Linked DNA regions of Homo sapiens: region 1 is linked to region 2. A link means that fine-mapping ties the variant in region 2 to the expression of a gene that starts in the linked region. Tissue or cell type: whole blood. Region 2 holds a variant in brackets; the other region holds the start of a gene. All regions are shown on one strand. Distances are from middle to middle.

Evidence for each region. PIP is the estimated chance that this variant, and not a neighbour inherited with it, causes the effect.
Region 1: it holds the start of TESC, and the variant in region 2 is fine-mapped to the expression of TESC in whole blood (TOPMed, PIP above 0.99).

What each region holds. Positions count from the first base shown.
Region 1 is chr12:117,094,673-117,104,523 of GRCh38, reverse strand. It overlaps TESC (tescalcin), which reads left to right and starts at 5,108. Exons shown (of 8, transcript NM_017899.4): 1 at 5,108-5,299. The coding sequence starts at 5,242. TESC-AS1 (TESC antisense RNA 1) reads right to left here and starts at 5,057. Exons shown (of 3, transcript NR_120464.1): 1 at 4,880-5,057; 2 at 3,884-4,071. RefSeq lists an enhancer at 1,477-1,976 and silencers at 3,892-4,109, 4,976-5,114, 4,853-5,372, 5,433-5,542, 5,613-5,712.
Region 2 is chr12:117,057,410-117,067,260 of GRCh38, reverse strand. All of the region lies in intron 2 of TESC (tescalcin), which reads left to right. Among named protein-coding and RNA genes, the nearest start is that of TESC, 37 kb to the left of the region's middle. RefSeq lists enhancers at 3,295-4,071, 4,072-4,848. The variant A/T (reference allele first, on the strand shown) is at 5,124.

The DNA.
Region 1 (9,851 bases), 37 kb before region 2:
GCAAGAGCAAATGGTTAAATATTCAGGGATTTTAAGCTGGGCATGGTGGCGCATGCCTGTATTTGCAGCTACCTGGAAAGCTGAGGCAGGAGGATCCTCTGAGCCCAGGAGTTCGACGCTAGCCTGAGCAACATAGTGAGACCCCATATCTAAAAAAACAAAATTCAGGGATTTTGCAAGCCTATTGTTAAATTATCAGTAACTTGAAATTGACTATGGCACGAGTATTTACACACAGAAATTGGCAACTGCTACAGATTAGGACTTCTGCCCCTCCTGCCCTTTTCAGAGAACTTGTTTACCAGCTCACCACTGGCTAGCACTTACGGTGTCAGGCAGTTTTAAGCACCTTCTCTATATGAATCTGCATTTAACCCTTACAATGTTACATATATGAATCTGCATTTAACCCTCACAATCACCTTACATGTATGAATCACCTTACATATATGAATCTGCATTTAACCCTCACAATGTTACATATATGAATCTGCATTTAACCTTCACAGTCACCTTACATGTATGATCACCTTACATATATGAATCTGCATTTAACCTTCACAATCACCTTACATGTATGAATCACCTTACATATATGAATCTGCATTTAACCCTCACAATCACCTTACATGTATGAATCACCTGACATATATGAATCTGCATTTAACCTTCACAATCACCTTACATGTATGAATCACCTTACATATATGAATCTGCATTTAACCCTCACAATCACCTTACATGTATGAATCACCTTACATATATGAATCTGCATTTAACCCTCACAATCACCTTACATGTATGAATCACCTTACATATATGAATCTGTATTTAACCGTCACAATCACCTTACATGTATGAATCACCTTACATATATGAATCTGCATTTAACCCTCACAATCACCTTACATGTATGAATCACCTGACATATATGAATCTGCATTTAACCCTCACAATGTTACATATATGAATCTGCATTTAACCTTCACAGTCACCTTACATGTATGATCACCTTACATATATGAATCTGCATTTAACCTTCACAATCACCTTACATGTGTGAATCACCTTACATATATGAATCTGCATTTAACCCTCACAATCACCTTACATGTATGAATCACCTGACATATATGAATCTGCATTTAACCTTCACAATCACCTTACATGTATGAATCACCTTACATATATGAATCTGCATTTAACCCTCACAATCACCTTACATGTATGAATCACCTTACATATATGAATCTGCATTTAACCCTCACAATCACCTTACATGTATGAATCACCTTACATATATGAATCTGTATTTAACCTTCACAATCACCTTACATGTATGAATCACCTTACATATATGAATCTGCATTTAACCCTCACAATCACCTTACATGTATGAATCACCTTACATATATGAATCTGCATTTAACCTTCACAATCACCTCACATGTATGAATCACCTTACATATATGAATCTGCATTTAACCCTCACAATGTAATTGCCACTTTGCAGATGGGGAAACTGAGGATGAGAGAGGTTAACTTGCCCAAGTATGGTTTCATAGCCCTCCATGACAGGAAGGTGGGAGAGCCAAATGAAGACCATCCTGGCCATCTCTGGGCTCAGCTGCTCTTTGCGGCTTGACAGGGACCAGCTATATGAATTGCGGTCACCACTTTTAATCAGCTCCTCCAGGAGGAGGTCCTCTGGGAGAAAAGACGCAGTTGCCTGGTGACTAAAGTGTTTCCCAGTCCTCCAAAAGTCATGCTGTGTTATTGGGGGGGATAAAGCTTGCCCCCCAGCAGGGTGCCCCTCTTCCAGGGCTCTAGACAAAAAATCCAATGAGCCCTGGCCAGACCCCATGCAAAGCTGCAGACCTCATTCTTGCTTCTTGCTTTGTTGACGCCTGCAGAGCCATTGGTAGGTTTGAATGAAAGCCATGACGTCCCGGAACAGGCAGCAGCTGGCTTTGCGTGGAGGGCGCCTTGCGGTGTGCACATCATTGCCAGAGGAGGGCAGAGCCCGGGCAGATGGTGGGTGCCACTGCAGGGGCCCCCACAGAGACATCTGTCCACCAAGAATTTGGCTTTGCTGTATCCCTTCGGGACCACAGTTGGGGACAGTCCTGGACTTCCTGAAGCTCAGCTTTAGGGATGACAGAGTCTCTCCAGGGGCCCATTCTGGTTTGAACATTCCATCTCTCTGTGGGCTCCATCACGTCAGCCCTTGTTTACCCATCTGCTTTGTCACTGCCCGTGTGTCTGTCTCCTCACCCCACCAGGAGTTCTTCAGGAGCGAAGGTGGCATCTTATTCCTGGCTGTGGCTCCAGGACCTAGCAAGAGCCCTGAACATAGTAGGTGCTCAATAAATGTGCAATGAATAAATGATTGAACGAATGCATAAATTGTGCCTTGGTTTTTTCTGCCTTCGTGCTGCTCCAAGGATCTCCTGATTACTTCTCCAAGCCCTGCTATTAGGAATAAATCCTCCTCTGTCATCCTCAGCAAGACTTCCCGCCTCCCAGCTCCCTGCTGACTGGTGGTGGTGGCTTGTTTGGCTGTGGACCCAGGAGAGGGGATGAGGACTCTGAGAAGGCCTCCCTGAGGATGTGAGTTTCCACTGAGGTCTGAAGAGGAAGCGGGAGTGCAAGAGAGTTTCAGGCAAAAGGAACAAGTACAAGTGCTTGTCTAGTAGCTAACAGCGGTCAGTGGGTCAGGGTAGACAGGTGATCGGGTAGGACAGACTCCCTTCATACTAGATACCAGGGGCTTCCTTGAGATCACCAAGGGACAATGTGAAGCCATGTGCCCTTCTCCTTGTCCCAGGGCTTTTGTCCCCACCAGAGCAACTGTGCCAAGCAGGAGGGGCTGATGTCCAGAGAATGCCACTTCCTATCCCCCACATCAGACAGTTCCATCATTTAATCCTTGACTAGTTTAATATAATAAAATTCCAGGAACTGACATTTTAAGTTGGAATAAAATTGCTCCCAGCAGCTGTACGTAATGGGCTGGCTCAGCGGCTCAGAACTCCCAGGGGTATTGGGGATCCTTTCCTGATCCCAGAGGCCTGCCTGTTTCCAGAATCCTTTAAACCAAAATGCAGTCCCTAGGTCAGCTGTCCTGCCGGCTCAGATCAGCTGATGACCCACAGCCAACATCTTTCCACCTTGATCAGGTCTTGCACTGCCCTCTGGAGAGTGCTTTAAAATGCAGATTGCAGGTGCTGCCTTAGCTCTACGAGTGCAGACAGGCAGTGGAAGAGGAAGCTGGATTTTCCATTTTAGAGACAGGGTCTCGTTCTGTTGCCTGGGCTGGAGTGCAGTGGTGCAATCAGAGCTCACTGCAGCCTCTAACTCCTGAGCTCAAGCGATCCTTCTGCCTCATCCTCCCAAGTAGCTGGGACTTCAGACGCACACCATTGTGCCCAGCTCATTTTTAAAAAGTTTTAATTGCTGGTAGAGCTGGGGTCTTGCTATGTTGCCCAGGCTGGTCTCAAACTCCTGGGCTCAATCCTCCTGTCTCAGCCTCCCAAAGTGGTGAGATTACAGACATGAGCCACTGCACCTGGCCAAAAGCTGGATTTGCAACCAGGAAGGGGCTGATTCTGATGCTCTAGGAGGTTTTAGGACCAACTCCCACCCTCTACCTCGGGCTCTGAAAGTCACCTCCTGCCCCTGGAAAGGGCTGTGACCCTTGGCTTGAGCCTGTAGTCTGCAGGAATGAACAGCAGTTCTCAGCAGCCCCCTTCCCAGCAGCCTGTGAAACTGATGGAGGTAGGTCCACCCGAGTCCCCTCTGTGGGCACCGAAAAACTCCTGCCCCCTACCCTGTCCCCCTTCCTCCCCAACATTTATCATCGAGACTAACGTTCAGAACAGACCTGATACCTGACGGTCATTGATGGTGGTGTCACTAAGCACTGCAGAGCCTTCAGGAGAGCCTTGACCTTGATGTTCTGCCCTGGCTGTGTGCCTCTCCAGGGGACAAGATTCCATAGCGCCCACCAGCCTCTGTGGCCATGTGCTGTGTCCACGCCAGGCCCTCTGGTGGACATCTCATTAACTTATCCTTATTTTAAGGAGGAGGAATCACATTACACAGGCAACAGCATCGGCCCCAGTCACCCCAACTGGATGGAGAGCCAACCCCTCAAGCCATCTTAACCCAGAACTTCCCTAATGGGCATGGGGACCACCGGCATTGCCTTCTCTCCAGCAGTTTGTCCCAAATGCAGCCTCCTGGGCCCACTTCTGCAGTTGTTTTTTTGTTTGTTTGTTTTTTGAGACAGAGTCTTGCTCTGTCGCCCAGGCTGGAGTGCAGTGGCAAGATCTCAGCTCACTGCAACCTCTGCCTCCCAGGTGCAAGTGATTCTCCTGCCTCAGCCTCCGGAGTAGCTGGGATTACAGGCATGTGCCACCGCGCCTGGCTAATTTTTGTGTTTTTAGTAGAGACGGGGTTTCACCATGTTGGCCAGGCTGGTCTCGAACTCATGAGCTCAAGTGATCCGCCCGCCTTGGCCTCCCAAAGTGCTGGGATTACAGGCGTGAGCCATGCGCCCAGCCCGCTCCTGCAGTTTGAGGTGCCTCTCAGCCACCGGGCTGTGCAGGGCCCACACGGGCCGCCACGTGGGTGTGTTCACCTCAGAAGGTGCTGGGGCTTTCCTGGAAAAAACCAAAGCGCATGGTGCATTTTCAAATAGGATTATTATTACTGTTGTTCTCCATAGAGCTATTTCATGCTCGCTGACTTCCTTGACTATCTCAGTGGAGTTTCCCTCCTAAGATCTGGAGGATGTAAGGTGGGATGGGTTGGGAGTGGGCATAGCACCTCCCAGGGGTCCCACCCCTCCTACCCACGCCCCCAAATTTGCTCACACCTGCTTCCTTCCAGATCCAGCAGGTGTGCGGAAGGGACGAGGTACGTGAGCACTGCTGCACGAACGGGGACTCCAGAGCGGTGGGCTCCGGGGTCCCCTTCCCGGCGGTTTCCGGGCCGGGGCGGGGCGGGGCGCTCCCCTAGCCGCGCAGTGCGCGAAACCGGCGTGCGCTAGGACCGCGGCGCGCCGCCCTCCGCCGTTATATGAGGCCCCGCTCCGGCCCCACGCGGAACCCGCGGCTCCGAGCCTTCGCCGGCGTCCCGACCCGAGGCCGGACCCGAGGCCAGTCCCGCCGCTGCGCAGCCGAAGCCAGTGCGGGGCCTGAGAGGGACGCGCGCCCCGGGGCCCCCGCCGCGGGCACCATGGGCGCTGCCCACTCCGCGTCTGAGGAGGTGCGGGAGCTCGAGGGCAAGACCGGCTGTGAGTACCCGCGGGGGGCGGCGCGGGGACCGGGGCGGGACCTCCGAACGGCCACTGTTGGGGACCCCGGCCCGCCGCCGCGCTGTGTGACCTTGGGCCAGTGGCGGGCCCTCTCTGCGCCTCAGTCTCCTCCTCTTTCAAATGGGTCCCCGCTGGCCACCTCGCGGGCTGCGGCGAGGAGCTCCGCGGCGATGCTCAGTGCCGCAGCCGCTCAGCTTCGGACTGGCCCGGGAACTCCCTGGCCGGGGGACTGCGGACCGGGGAGGGAGCGGGGCCCAGGCTTCCCAAGCGCAGGGCAGGTGCCTCAGGCCGGGCGGGCAAGTCCCTCAGGCACCCCCGCTGGCGCGCGCGCCCCACACCTGAGAGTCGTTTGCATTCGTGAGCGCGAGAGCGGAAAGTTTTGAAGTCGGCGGACCTGGGTGGGAACAGGTCTCCGACGCTCCCCGGCCGGGTGACCTTAGTCGGGAGAGCCGGCGCCCGGCGCCTGCTTTCGTCCTCGCATCTGTAAAATGGGTTCAGGCAGCCTCATCCCCGCGGGTGGCTGGGAGACTTAGCGAGGCAGCGGCCGCAGAGCACTTTGCCCGGAGCCCAGCGTCCTCCCCTGAGTTCGCTGAGTCTCCCGGGACCAGCAAAGGCTGCGCGCCCCGCATCGGCCCGGAGGCGGGGAGCCCTGGGAGGCCTGGCCGAGCTGCCCGCAGGGAAATGGCGGAGAAAGCGCTTCTCTGCCCGAGTTCAGCCGGGCTGGGGACTTGGCCCTGGGTCCTGAACTCGGCATGGCCAGTTCTGCCTCTGGCTGTGGACCAGGGTGTGGACTGGAGACCGCGGGGGCCAGGTGTGTGGGCAAACCGGCTTTGGCGAGCGACAGACCGGCTGTGAACCCTGCCAGCTGCACTTCCTGGCTGTGTGACCTTGGGCTAGTCACTTTACCTCTCTGATTCTCAGCTTTCCTTCTCTGTTGTAAGAGTTCTCCTAGTACCTGGTAGACGCTCAGGAAATGGGAGCTGCAGATATTTTGGGAAAGAGCTAGCTCCTGGCACCTGCTTCAAGTGCAGAGAACCAGCGTCCAGTATTGATCACCAAGAGAGGGTGGCCCAGCTGTTTGTGTGTCAGCTGAAAAGCAACCCCTCTTGACCCCCAATCTAAATACCCCTTTCCAGGAGAACTGGATGAAAATTGCAGAAAACCATTAATAACTGGTGTGTGTATGCACGCACTTATACGTCTATATCTGTATCTCTGTGTGTGTAGAGATATAGAAATATCCAACTAAAGAAGTAAAAGGTGTGGCTCAGCATATATAATATGGTACCCTTTTTTCTGTTTTTTAAAAAAGGATCCTTTGAGCTGGAGCCGCAAAGTAAAAAGAAATAGAAAATGTAAAAAGAGGGGAAAATAAGAGTATACATTTGTAATTGCTATATTTGCAGACTGGAAGAATCCACCAGAAAGTACGAATGGATGCTTGGTGGGGGTTGCGGGGGGAGTGGAAGGGATGAAGGGAGAGTGAGCTTTTTCTCCGTAAACGTTTTTATATGTTCATTTTGAACTATGTTGGATATTTTACTTACTCAAAAAGTTTTATGCACTTCAATCCGAAGACTAATATGAGAGAGAAAGGAGGGATTCCTCTAGCTCTTACTTGCTTGGGTCTCCTCTGCTTTTATTATTTCTCATGTGCCCTCTCCTCGCCTCCCACTGCTTTGAATCTGGATGGGTGTCGATGGGCATTCTCTGTGGCTGGGATCCCCGTTGGAAGGGTGGGCTCTCCGGCAGCCCACGGGGCACTCGGGAATTCCACCTGGTTGTGGGTTTGACAGGGAGGAGGGGCTGCAGAGCATGCTGGGAGTCTTGTCAGTTTCCTGGGTCCAGCCTCCCACTGGGATGACAGATGCTGTGTTCCTGCTCTGTAACCTTCCTAGATGTAGCTGCAGCGGCTTCCCTTCTTGCTGCCCAGAGCTCAGACTTCATAACCCAAGGGAGATGGAGAGGGTCGGAGAGGAGGTTCTGAGGTTAGACTAGAGTAGGCAGGTGGAACTTTAGGTAGGTGGAAAGTTGCCCCCAGTCCTCCGAAAGGGACTGCGTAATTCGGTCACTTTTGCCCACTTAGCAAATATTTATAGACCAGGGGCTGGGGATTTAGAGATGACTCGGAGAGGCTGCTGTTCCTGGAGGGGGACACACAGTAAACAAAACGCCCGACAGGTGTTAAACTGTGAACGAGGCATAGCAGGGTGGCATGAGAATGGAGCTTTAGGGTGGATCCGGAGGTCCTCCCTGAGGAGGTGATAATGGAACAGAAATCCAAGTAAGAATGAGCCAGGGGTGTGCAAATCAGTGGAAAGGGCATCTCGGGCCGAGGGGACGTCGAATGCAGAGGCCCTGTGGCAGGGACAAGCCAGCAACAGTAAATAAGAATGCATGAGATGAGGACACAGCTGTCGTCAGGGCTCAGGCTGTGGCAGGAGCCTGGCTTCAGGGGCCTTGCCAGGTACCTTGGGCAAGTCACTTATGCTCTCTGAGCCTCAGTTTTATCTACTATAAAATGGGCATAGTCATAGTACCTCCCTTGAAGTTGTTGGGAAGGATTGAGTTAATATACATGAAGTAGTTAGACCAAACACATGTACATGGTTTGTTATTGACCATGCTTTAAACACTCTTGTATGTCCTGGTCGCTCCGAGCCATAGCTGAGAGTTGAGTCTTGGTCCCACCTCTCTGAGCTACATGACCTTGGGCAAGTCATCTTACTTCTCTGAGCCTCAGTACCCCCACCTGGATCCTGAAGTCATTGTGTGGATTTGATAAGGTTACGTGCGAGACGATCGGCTTGGCATGGGAACGTCAGCTCCCAGAGACCCAGTGGGTCAGGCAGGGCCCTTCCTCCAAGGCCATTCCCTTGGGAATCTTCCCTGAGAAAAAGGGAGAAAAGCCTCAGGGTAAGGTGGCCAGAGGACAGACTGAGCCCACAGGGCTGCTGACTCCCCCGCCTCCCTGAGGACCAAGATGACCCCTGACTTTCTGGGGAGGAATCAGCTTGGTCCCTTTCTGAGAACACCATCCAGAAAGGACCAGAAGGTCAGGCTGAGGCTGGTGATAATGAACATAATTCCCCAAGCACCTGCTGAGCATCAGGCTCCACGCTGGTGCTCTCTGCATAACACTCTTTATAGTAATGATCCCCCAGGAAGGCAGTGTTAGGGCCATTTTACAGGTGAGGAAACTGAGGCTTAGAGAGGTAAACCAGCTTGCCTGCAGTCCCACAGCTGCTAAGTGGAGGAGTTGGAGATCATGGGATCCCCAAGCCTACTTTCTTTTTTTACAGTTTTTTTTAATTTTTAGTTTTTGAGGCAGGGTCTTGCTCTCTCACCCAGGCTGGAGTGCAAGGGGCATGATCAAGCTCACTGCAACCTCGAACTCCTGGGCTCCAGCGATCCTCCCACCTCAGCCTTCCCAGTAGCTATGACTGCAGGTGTGCGCCACCACACCAGCTAATTTTAAATTTTTCTGTAGAGACAGGGGTCTTGCCATGTTGATCAGACTAGTCTCAAATTCCTGGCCTCAAAGTGATCCTCCCACTTCAGCCTCTTGAAAGCGCTGGAGTTACAGGCATGAGCCACCATGCCTGGCCCCAAGACTGCTTTCTTACTGCCAGCATGCTTTCACTGTGTGTAGCTGCCACTTGAATTTCTAGGAACCAAGAAGGGATAGGAAAAGACTCCCGTATTTTTTCTCACCTTCAGGCCTTTGCACAAAAGCTGTTCCTCTGCCTGGAGCACTGTTTTCATTTGATGTGTACAATCAGGTGTTTACGTACGGGAGCCTTTCTCTGTCTCCACCCAGGGTAAGGTCTAGGCCGGGCGTGGTGGCTCACGCCTATAATCCCAGCACTTTGGGAGGCCAAGGCAGGTAGATCATGAGGTCAGGAGTTCAAGACCAGCCTGGCCAAGATAGTGAAACCCTGTCTCTACTAAAACTACAAAAATTAGCTGTGCGCGGTGGCAGACGCCTGTAATCCCAGCTACTCGGGAGGCTGAGGTCGGAGAATCGCTTGAACCTGGGTGGCGGAGGTTGCGGTGAGCTGAGAGCATGCCACTGTACTCCAGCCTGGGCGACAGAGTGAACTCCATCTCACAAAAAACAAAAACAAGAAAAAACAAACTCAAACCTTTCCTCTTAACCTTGTCTCTCTCTCTTTTTTTTTTTTTTTGAGATGAATTTTCACTCTTGTTGCCCAAGCTGGAGTGCAGTGGCGCGATCTCAGCTCACTGAAACCTCTGCCTCCTGGGTTCAAGCAATTCTCCTGCCTCAGCCTCGTGAGTAGCTGGGATTACAGGTGCCCGCCACCATGCTCGGCTAATTTTTGTATTTTTAGTAGAGACAGGGTTTCACCATGTCGGCCAGGCTGGTCTGAAACTCCTGACCTTAAGTGATCCGCCTGCCTCTGCCTCCCAAAGTGCTGGGATTACAGGTGTGAGCCACCGCGCACAGCGTTAACCCTGTCTCTTTATGAAACGAATGCTCATTATTGTTCAGGGGTTGGCTTACCTGCTG
Region 2 (9,851 bases):
CTATACTCATAAGGAAGTTGCTGAGGCCCTACCTAGCTCAGCAGGCTGTTTCACCATCAGAATTTAATATATTCCAAGAGGCAGCGAGTCCTCCCTTTAAAAGCCTCAGCTAGGATGATGCACGTTCACTTAAAGAGGAAAACCTGCTACGGTAGCTGTAAAGATGCCCAGAAAAGACAGCGGGCGTGAGGCAGCTGGACTCGCACATCTGCTTAGGTGAGAGTGTTAAGGCAGACGTGAGGAGAGCCACCAAGGGGGTAGTTTGGTGTGAAAAGGTGCGGAGGCGTTCCCGAGGCAAAAAGCAGCTTTCTAAACAGTCTTAGTTTTATTAGCAGGTACTCGCATATAAAACTTTTATAGAGATTCTTTTCCCAGGATGGTTGATACTGACATGGTCCTTGCTTACAAGCCTGCAAATGTCCAGGGCCTTCCGTGATGGGTTTTAGAGCTGAGGATCCTACAGGGTTGAGAAGGGGAGGCTCCCCTTCCCCTGCTGGGGCACTTCTGTTCTGATGCTTATGTGTGTGAGGGGTAGTCAGAGAGAAAGCTAGCACATCAGCCAGTTCATGCTATAACATGAGCAATATACTAAGGTTGGCTGGGCATGGTGGCTCATGCCTGAAATCCCAGCACTTTGGGAGGCTGAGGCGGGCGGATCACGAGGTCAGGAGATCGAGACCATCCTGGCTAACACAGTGAATTTCTACTAAAAATACAAAAAACTAGCCAGGCGTGGTGGTGGGTGCCTGTGGTTCCAGTTACTCGGGAGGCTGAGGCAGGAGAATGGCGTGAACCCGGGAGGCGGAGCTTGCAGTGAGCCAAGATAGCGCCACTGCACTCCAGCCTGGGCAACACAGTGAGACTCCGTCTCAAAAAAAAAAAAAAAATTAGCCATTCATGGTGGCGGGTGCCTGTAGTCCCAGCTACTCAGAAGGCTGAGGCAAGAACATCTGTTGAACCCAGGAGGTGAAGGCTGCAGTGAGCCAAAATCGCACCACTGTACTCCAGCCTGGGCGATAGAGTGAAGCCCTGCCCCAAAAAAAAAAAAAAAAAAAAAAAAGCTAAAGGAAGGAAACAGGGCAGACAGCCATCCCCTGGAACCCTAGGGAGGAGAGGGTCCTTGGGGTAGGTGGTCATGGAAGGTGCCACTGAGGAGGCCACATCTGGGCTGAGACCAGGAGAGAAGGAGCCGGTGTGTGAAGAGAAGAGGGAGGGGAGCTCTAGGCAGAAGGCCCAGCACATGAGGAGAATTGGAGAGTTGGGTGCAGATCACAGAGGGTTTGCCTTTGCCCTAGTGATGACTTGGGTTTCCTTTTGTCCTTGAAATAAAATGCACAGATGTGGCCTGAAACACCAGCTGTATGTTAGCTCCTACTTTTTTGTTGTTGTTTTGCTCTGTTGCCCAAGCTGAAGTGTGGTGGTTCGATCTCAGCTCACTGCAGCCTCAACCACCCAGGCTCAAGCGATCCTCCTGCCTCAGCCTCCCAGAACTTACAGGCATGTACCACCATACCCGGCTAATTTTTGTATTTTTTGTAGAGATGGGGTCTTGCCATGTTGCCAAGGCTGGTCTTGAACTCCTGGGCTCAAGGAGTCCTCTCACCTCAGCCTCCCAAAGTGCTGAAATTATAGGTGTGAGCCACTGTGCCCGGCCAGCTCCTACATCTGTATGTCCTCCCAGGACCTCTCCCCTGAGCTCCTGACTCATGTAGCAACTGCCCATCCACTTAATATCCAATAAGACATGCCGCTTAACATGCCCCTTTCAAAGCAAGCACCTCCTCATCCCTCCCAGAGGTCCCCCGTTCCTCTGTGGTGAACGGCAGCCTCACAGTTCCCTGCAGTGGTCACCTTTGATTCCTCCCTTTGTCTCAGCCCTGCTTCCAGTTCATCAGCAAACACTGCCATTTCTACCTCCCAAGGAGCCCAGGATTTGCTACTTCTCTCCCCTTCTTCCTCTGCTCCCCCAGCCCCTGCCCTCATCCAGCTGCCATGGTCTCTGGCCTGGGCTACCCCAACAGCCTCCTCCCTGGTTCCCCTGTGTCTGTCTTCACTGTCCATCCACCATCCAGGCTCACGGTACCATGTGGGAGGGTCCTATGAGACTGTCTCTTCTCTGCTGAAGATGTTCTGTCTCACCCATTGGGAGTCAGAGCCTCCGCTGAGGCCTCTCAGTGTCCTTCTGGCCCCTGCACGGTTGGGCCCCTGCCACACCCATCTCCAATTATTTTTGCCCAAGTTACATGAACATTCTTTGTTCCCCACCCCAGGGCTCTAGCTCATGCTGTTCCTTCTTCTTAGAATGCTTTTCCCCTAGAGCAGGGTTTTTGAGCCTGGGCTCTGGGGCTGGATGATTCTTCACTGGGGGTTGTCCTGGGCACTGTGGGGTGCTGAGCAGCATCCCTGGCCTCCACCCACTAGATGCTGGTAGCACCCTCCCCACCAGCTGGACACATGGGAGTGGAGAACCTCCCCTCCTTCAGGTCTCTGCTCAAATGTCACTTTTTTCCCTGTGGCCTTTCTGTGGTCAACCTCATTTAAACTTGTACCGGTCTCCTGTGGTCCCCTCCCTTTCTCTGCTGAATTTCTCTGCAAAGTACTCATCACTCCCTGAGATACTCTATTTCCCATCTTTTTTGTGCTCTCCTAGATTCCCCGTAAGGGATCGTGTCTGTCTTTACCTCTGCAGCTGGCACCTAGAACAGTGCCTGGCTCCTTGAAGGGGCTCGAATGCTTGTCGCTGAGTTGCTTTCACTGTAAGAAGTCAATTCCAGGTGTTGGGGAAAGTGGGGGACTGACATGGGGCAGGGACAGGGATGAGAAGGTGTTTGCCTGGGGGAGTGGTCTTGGCGACGTTGTCCAGCTTTTCAAAGAGGCATTTGCCAGGAGCAAAAAGGACCAGGCCTTTCTTGCCAGAATCTTCTGTGCAAAAATGTGGATAGGAGAATTGCCTAGCACATTTGCACAATTCCAGGTGCTTTGAAACATTGAGAGATTAAGAGGCCAGCAGTTCTCACGCATTCATGTGTACGTGAATGCCCTGGGGACTGCGTTAAAATGCAGGTTCTGTAATGCCAGCACTTTGGGAGGCCAAGGCGGGAGGATCACTTGAGCCCAGGCGTTCAGGACTAGCTTGGGAAATATAGTGAGACCCTGTCTTTACCAAAAATAAATTGGGTGTGGTGGTACACACCTGTAGTCCCAGCTGCTCAGGAGGCTGAGGAGGGAGGATCACTTGAGCCCAGGAGTTCAAGGCTGCAGTGAGCCATGAATGCACTACTGTATTAATGCAGGTTTTGATTCAGTAGGTCTGGAGTAGGGAGAGATGGTGCATCTCTAATAAGCTCCAGGTGATGCAGATGCTGCTGGCCCAGAAACCACACTTTGAGTATCTTGGCTACTGGGAAGACATGTGCTGAGTGACATGCAGTCTCTGCCTTGAAGAGTCTCCATGGGGCCTCAGCTTCCCCACTGTGGGGGACACCACATGCTGAACAGTGAGTGCAGGAAGGGGAATCAGAGGGGCACTGGGCAGGCAGTGCAGGAAGGGGAACTCAGAGGGACATTGGGCAGGCAGCCCGGCAAAGTGGCCTCCCTCAGTGCAGGGAGCCCTGGAGCGGTGGAAGTTCCGGCCTGAGAATCTGGGGCCTGGCTGCACCCTCACCTTGGAGGTCGGTTAGCCTTGTGGTGGTTGGTGGGGGTTGGGGAGCTCCATGCTCAGTACCCCTAGAGAGAACTTTGCAACTGAGCTGGGCTCCGAAAGCCACCGGAAACCAACCCACACCACGAGGCTTGAGGAAGAGCCCAGCACAGTCCTCGGTGGTTTTTTGAGCCTGGTCCTTCCCTTCTTGTTGGCCTGACGCTTGTCCTGCCCTCTTCCTGGGTCCCAGATGGGGCCTCTTGGGCTGAGGGCTGGGGGCTGGGTGAGAGCAGATGCCTCGCTCTTTCTCTCTTTAACGTAAAAATGCGCAACTGGAAGGAAGGAAGTGGTGAGAGTGAGGAAGCGCAAGATGGTTCGAGCCAGCCTGGAGGCAGAGCTGGAGTCCCGCGCCAACTCTAGCTGTGTGACTGGGGCTTAGTCTCTTTGCCTCTCTGGGCCTTGTGTTCTGGTCTGTAAAATAGGATCATCATTGTTGCCACTCATGATTATGTGGGGGTGATTAAGTGTTGCAGTGCTTAGCACAGCTTGATGTCACGCGAGCCCTTCATGACTCCAGGGGGACATTCTGAAGCCCCGAGGGCTCAAGCTCTCCCGCAGGAGGCCTGGAAGGTGTGTGGCCCTGGAGCCCTCCTGGGCAATCCCCGCTACCCCTGATGGTCACTGGGGCAACACCACTGGCCATGAGAATCAGCTCTGGCTGAGGGCAGTGACCTGCCGTCAGCCCTGGGCTCTGAGGTGAGGCAGAGCCTGTTCCCATGGCTGCAGCCTGGGCTGCGACACCTTTAGAAAAGCCGGTTCATCCAGCCCGGCGGGGACCTAGGGAGGAAGGAAAACAAAACTGACACGAGTATTGATGGAGCATGAAACTGATGAAATGAAAAGGTTAGCCTGTCCTAAGCGCTGGACTCAAGGCCGGTGCTCTCCTTGTTGAAAAGGGACATTGGCAGGTTTTAGGGAAAGTCCCTGAAGGCCAGGCACCAACCACCATGCCACTGCCTGGGTCCGCCAGTATCATTCTTAACAATGAGAAGTGGCTTCATCTCTCTGCCTCAGTTTCCTCATCTTTAAAATGGGCACAGGCCGGGTGCAGTGGCTCACACCTGTAATCCCAGCACTTTGGGAGGCTGAGGAGGGCAGATCACCTGAGGTCACGAGTTCGAGACCAGCCTGGCCAACATGGTGAAACCCCATCTCTACTAAAAATACAAAAATTAGCTGGGCATGGTGGCAGGTACCTGTAATCCCAGCTACTCGGGTGGCTGAGGTACAAGAATCACTTGAACCCAGGAGGTGGAGGTTGCAGTGAGCAGAGATCACGCCACTGTGCTCCAGCCTGGGCGGCAGAGTGAGACTCCGTCTCAAAAAAAAAAAATTAAGAAAATAAAATGGGCATAAGTACCTACTTTATAGGGTTGTTGTGAACCCTATGTAATAATGTAAAGCTCTTAGAATAGTTCCTTCC[A/T]TTTTGAGGGTACGTAGGTTAGCTGCTGTTACATTATTATTATTACTACTATTAATACTGCTGCAGCGATTACTGTTACTGCTGCTGCCGTTATTACTGTTATTATTTTAAAATTAAGAGCTCATCCTGTGTCAGGCAGCCTACTCAGCATCTTATGTGGATTTATCTCATTTGATCATCTCATTAGCCCCATCATGTTACCTGGATATTCCTATGATCCCCATTTTACATATGAGAAATCACGGCTTGAAGACATGCTGTGATTACTCAAGACCATGTGCCTGGTAAGGGGCAGAGCCTGGGCCAGCACCCCTCTCCCCACCTTGTGTTTGACCCTGAACCATCCCCTTTGATATGGGAAGGATTAGGTCTGCACCCATCTCACAGATGAGGAAACTGAGGCTCCAAGAGTCAGGCACCAGTGGTGAGGGGGAGGTGAGAGTCAGGTGTGGATGTAGCAGGTGCCTATGGAGAGAGAGAGAGAGAGCAGAGGCAGCGGGCTTCAGAGCCATTTACACACCCACTGGGGGTTGTGAAGCCAGCACCTGGGGACACTGTGTCCCCAGCTCAATTCCTAGCAGGTCAAGCATGTCTTGTTGCTGCTGGTTGGGGACAGGCCTCTTGTGTTGAGTTAATTTCTTCTCCAGGCACATGGGTCAGGCTCTTCTAGGTGGTTTCTCCCCCACCTCTCCTCCCTCTCTCCTGGGACATTGGGGTCTGCTCTCCTTCCAGGGTCTGGACACCTGGGCCCTGGGGAAGGCACCTGGGGAAGGGCAGTGCCTCAGGATGGGCCAGACAAAGAGGGAAGCCCTGCGTGCAGCCATCTTCATTATTCGCTTCATTATTCGCTCAGCAAACCATTTATTGACCACCTTGCCAAGCCCAGCAGTGCAAGGCACTGAGGACGGGGTGCTGTGGACATCACAGGGTCCCCATCCTGCAAGGTGCCATCTGTGGTGCACTCCCAGTTCACCAGACACCGTGCTGAGCATGTTGCAGACTTTATCTCCTCTAAACTGTACGGCAACCCTGTGAGGTTCCTGTTTGCAAAGGAGTAGACAGAGGCTGGGTGAGGCAACGCCGTTTGACCCAGGTAGCAGAGTAGGGTAGAGCCCAAGTGTGATTCCAGAGGCTGTGCCCTTCACCCTCTGTCAGTATCAGTGTGCCCTCCTCACAGACGAGAAAACAGACTCAGGAAGGATTAGCAACAGCCAGTGAAAGCCAGAGAGGGTTTGGCTAGCAGCATAGCAGCCAGCGGCTTCTCTGTTCTCCCAGATTCCCTCTGGAGCTCCACGTGGTCCCTTTCTCAGGGATCTGGGCCTTGGAAAATGGATTCTATTCGGATGGCCAGGGAGAGTCGGGCAGCAGGGTATCTGGTAAGAGCATGGCTGTACGCTACCTGGCTTCCAAGCTGACTCTTCCATGCCCCCACTGGGTGAGCTGGGGCAGGTTGCCGAACCTGTCTGTGCTGAGCCTGAAGCGTCGTGGATAATAGGAGCCCTTGTGGGGTCTCTGGGAAGCGAGGTGGCTCCGGCCAAGTTGCTTGCACGGTTGTGAGCTGTAGCTGTCATTGTCATCCGATCGTGATTTCGTAGATCATCTCCCTGGTAACCCTGACTCATTCAGGGCTCTGGTCTCTCTATTCTGTCCCCTCCTGTGGTCGCCTCCCACTAATGAGGAAAAAGGGCAAGGCATCGAGCTGTCTCCGAGCAGTGAGGGTGTGACCTGCATACAGAAAAGCATGTGTCACACACAGAGGGACTTTGACAGACGGAACATGCAACAGAATGTTCCCGGCTCCCAAAAGGCCCCCATATTCCCTCTCAATCACCCCCAACTCTGGGGCGGTTCACCACCCTGACTGCAGAGGTTCGTGTTGTCACTTTCTGTTCTTTACATAAATGGAGTCATAGTGCAGTAGCACAGCAGTTCTTTTTTGTTTTTTTAAAGACTTATTAGAAAATTTTAACAGCTTTATGGAGCTGTAATGCACATATTATAAAATTCGCCCATTGAAAATGTACAGTCCACTTTAGAGCACCTCAGAAAGAAGCTCTGCACCCGTTAGCCATCACCCCGTCCCCAGCCCCTGGAAACCACATCTCTCCACTTTGTCTCCCTGCATTTGTCTTTTCTGGATGTTTCCTATAAATGGCATCGTACACCATTTGTGTCTGGCTTCTTCCACTGAGCATCATGTCTTCCAGGTATATCCGTGCTGTGGCATGGATGAGAATCTCGTTCCTGGACAGGTGCAATGGCTCACACCTGTAATCCCAGCACTTTGGGAGGCTGAGGTGGGTGGATTACCTGAGGTCAGGAGTTTGAGACCAGCCTGGCCAACTGGTGAAACCGCACCTCTACTAAAAATACAGAAGTTAGCTGGGCGTGGTAGCACATGTCTGTAATCCCAGCTACTCGGGAGGCTGAGGCAGGAGAATCACTTGAACCCGGGAGGCGGAGATTGCAGCCGAGATCCACTATGGAGCAGGCCCATGGAGATTGAGCCGAGATTGTGCCACCGCGCTCCAGCCTGGGCAACAGAGTGAAACTCTGTCTCAAAAAAACAAAACAAAAAACCTTGTTCCTTTTTATGGCCAAAAAATAATCTTATTTTTTTTTCCATGGCCAAATAACATCCCATCTCTCTGGGCCAGCTGTCCCGAGTCTACCTCCTTCTTTTGAACTGGGTTTCTGGGAATCTAAAACATGAGTCTGCCCTGACACAGCTACTGAGTTTGGCCAGAGGCCATGAGTGAGCCCAGCTGAAAGGCCTGGGTGGGAGGGACAGGAGGCCATGCCGGGGACACAGAGGGACCCGGGAATCGGCCAGGTCCTGCTGTGCCTCTCCATGCCTCCATCCCCACCCCTCCAATGCGTAAGGCAGGGCAGCACAGGGGCCACAAGGCGTTCACAGAATCTTCCAACCCAAACGGCGTAGAGTCCCTTGCATCTGTTTTGCCTCCTCCTCTCCAGCATCTGTCTGTCCTAGTGTTGAATCCCACTCCCAATGACTGTCCCGTCATCACTTCCCACCCGGACGTCCTCATTTTCAGTGGGCTGATACCCTCTGCCTTCCCTACCTGGGCCTGACACCTTTTTCCCTAGGATCACCAGCCTGTGTGCTGGGTCCTTCCCAAGACACTGCCCGTGGAGGCCCATGGAGCAGAAGGAAAAGGTGAGCAGGAAGCAGATTGAGAGAACCCAGGATGGCCTTCTGTGAAAGGCAGGGGAGGAGGGCAGGCAGGTGAGGGAGTGGCTGACGCCCCTGCCTGCAAACCTGCAGCCTCTAGGACTCAGCATTACCTGTGCCAGCTACAGGGTGTCCTCCTGTGAAATTCACCCTCCCCTCTCCCCAGCCAAGCTTTTTTTGCCTTTTTTTTTTTTTTTTTAAGAGATTGGAGTCTCACTGTATCACCCAGGCTGCAGTGTAGTGGCACCATCATAGCTCACTGTAACCTTGAACTCCTGGGCTTAAACAATCCTCTTGCCTCAGCCTCCTGCATTGGTTGCTAGCTGGGACTACAGGCGCATGCCATCACACCTGGCTGGCTTTTTTTTTTTTTTTTTTTAACAGCTTTACTGAAATGTAATTTACATAATACAACTTAGCCATTAAAATGTGCAATTCAGTGACATTTGTTGTATGTACAGAGTTCTGCATCCAGCACTGCAGTCAATATTAGAACATATTCATCACTCCCAAAAGAAAGCTGTACCCTCAGCTGGCACACCACATTCCCCTCTCCCCAACCCCCTGACAACCACCAATCTGCTTTCTACCGCGGTGTATTTACCTATTCCAGATAATTCATGTAAATGGAATTATGTAATATGTGGTCATTTGTAATTGGCTTCTTTCACTTAGCATAATGGGTTTTTTTTGTTTGTATTTTGAGACGGAGTCTCAAAACTCAAAAGTTTTTTGAGACTACAGTCTACCAGGCTGTAGTGCAATGGTGAGATCTTGGCTCACTGCAACCTCCACCTCCCGGATTCAAGCAACTCTTGTGTCTGAGGTTCCCAAGTAGCTGGGATTACAGATGTGCGCCACCACACCCGGGTAATTTTTGTATTTTTAGTAGAGATGGGGTTTCACCATGTTGGCCAGGCTGGTCTTGAACTCCTGACCTCAAGTGATCCGCCTGCCTCGGCCTCCCACAGTGCTGGGATTACAGGTGTGAGCTACGGCGCCCGGGCTCACTTAGCATCATGTTTTTTAGATTCATTTGTGTTGTAGCATCTATCAGTACTTGGTTCCTTTTTATGGCTAAAAAATACTCCATTGTGGTTGCAGTGAGCCAGGATTGCACCACTGCACTCCAGCCTGGGCGGCAGAGCGAGACTCCATCTCAAAAAACAAACAAACAAAAAAACTCCATTGCATGGGCCACATTTTATTTCTCCAATTATGAGTTGACAGATGTTTGGGTTGTTTCTGCTTTACGGGTGAGCAATGCTGCTGTGAAATTCACACACAGGTTTTTATTTCTCTTGGGCATATCCCTAGGAGTGGAGTTGCTGGGTTGTCAATACTCCATGTTTAACCTTTGAGGACCTGCCAGACTGTTTTCCAGAGCTCCAAGCCAGCACCCCACTGCTCTAAATACTGACCTAGGGATTTGAGGATGGGCTTCAGGCAGTCTCTGAATCCCCAGAATGGACACAAATCCCACGTCTCTGCATTTGTTTGGGGATGAATGTACAGTCCACCTCTTTGATTCTCAA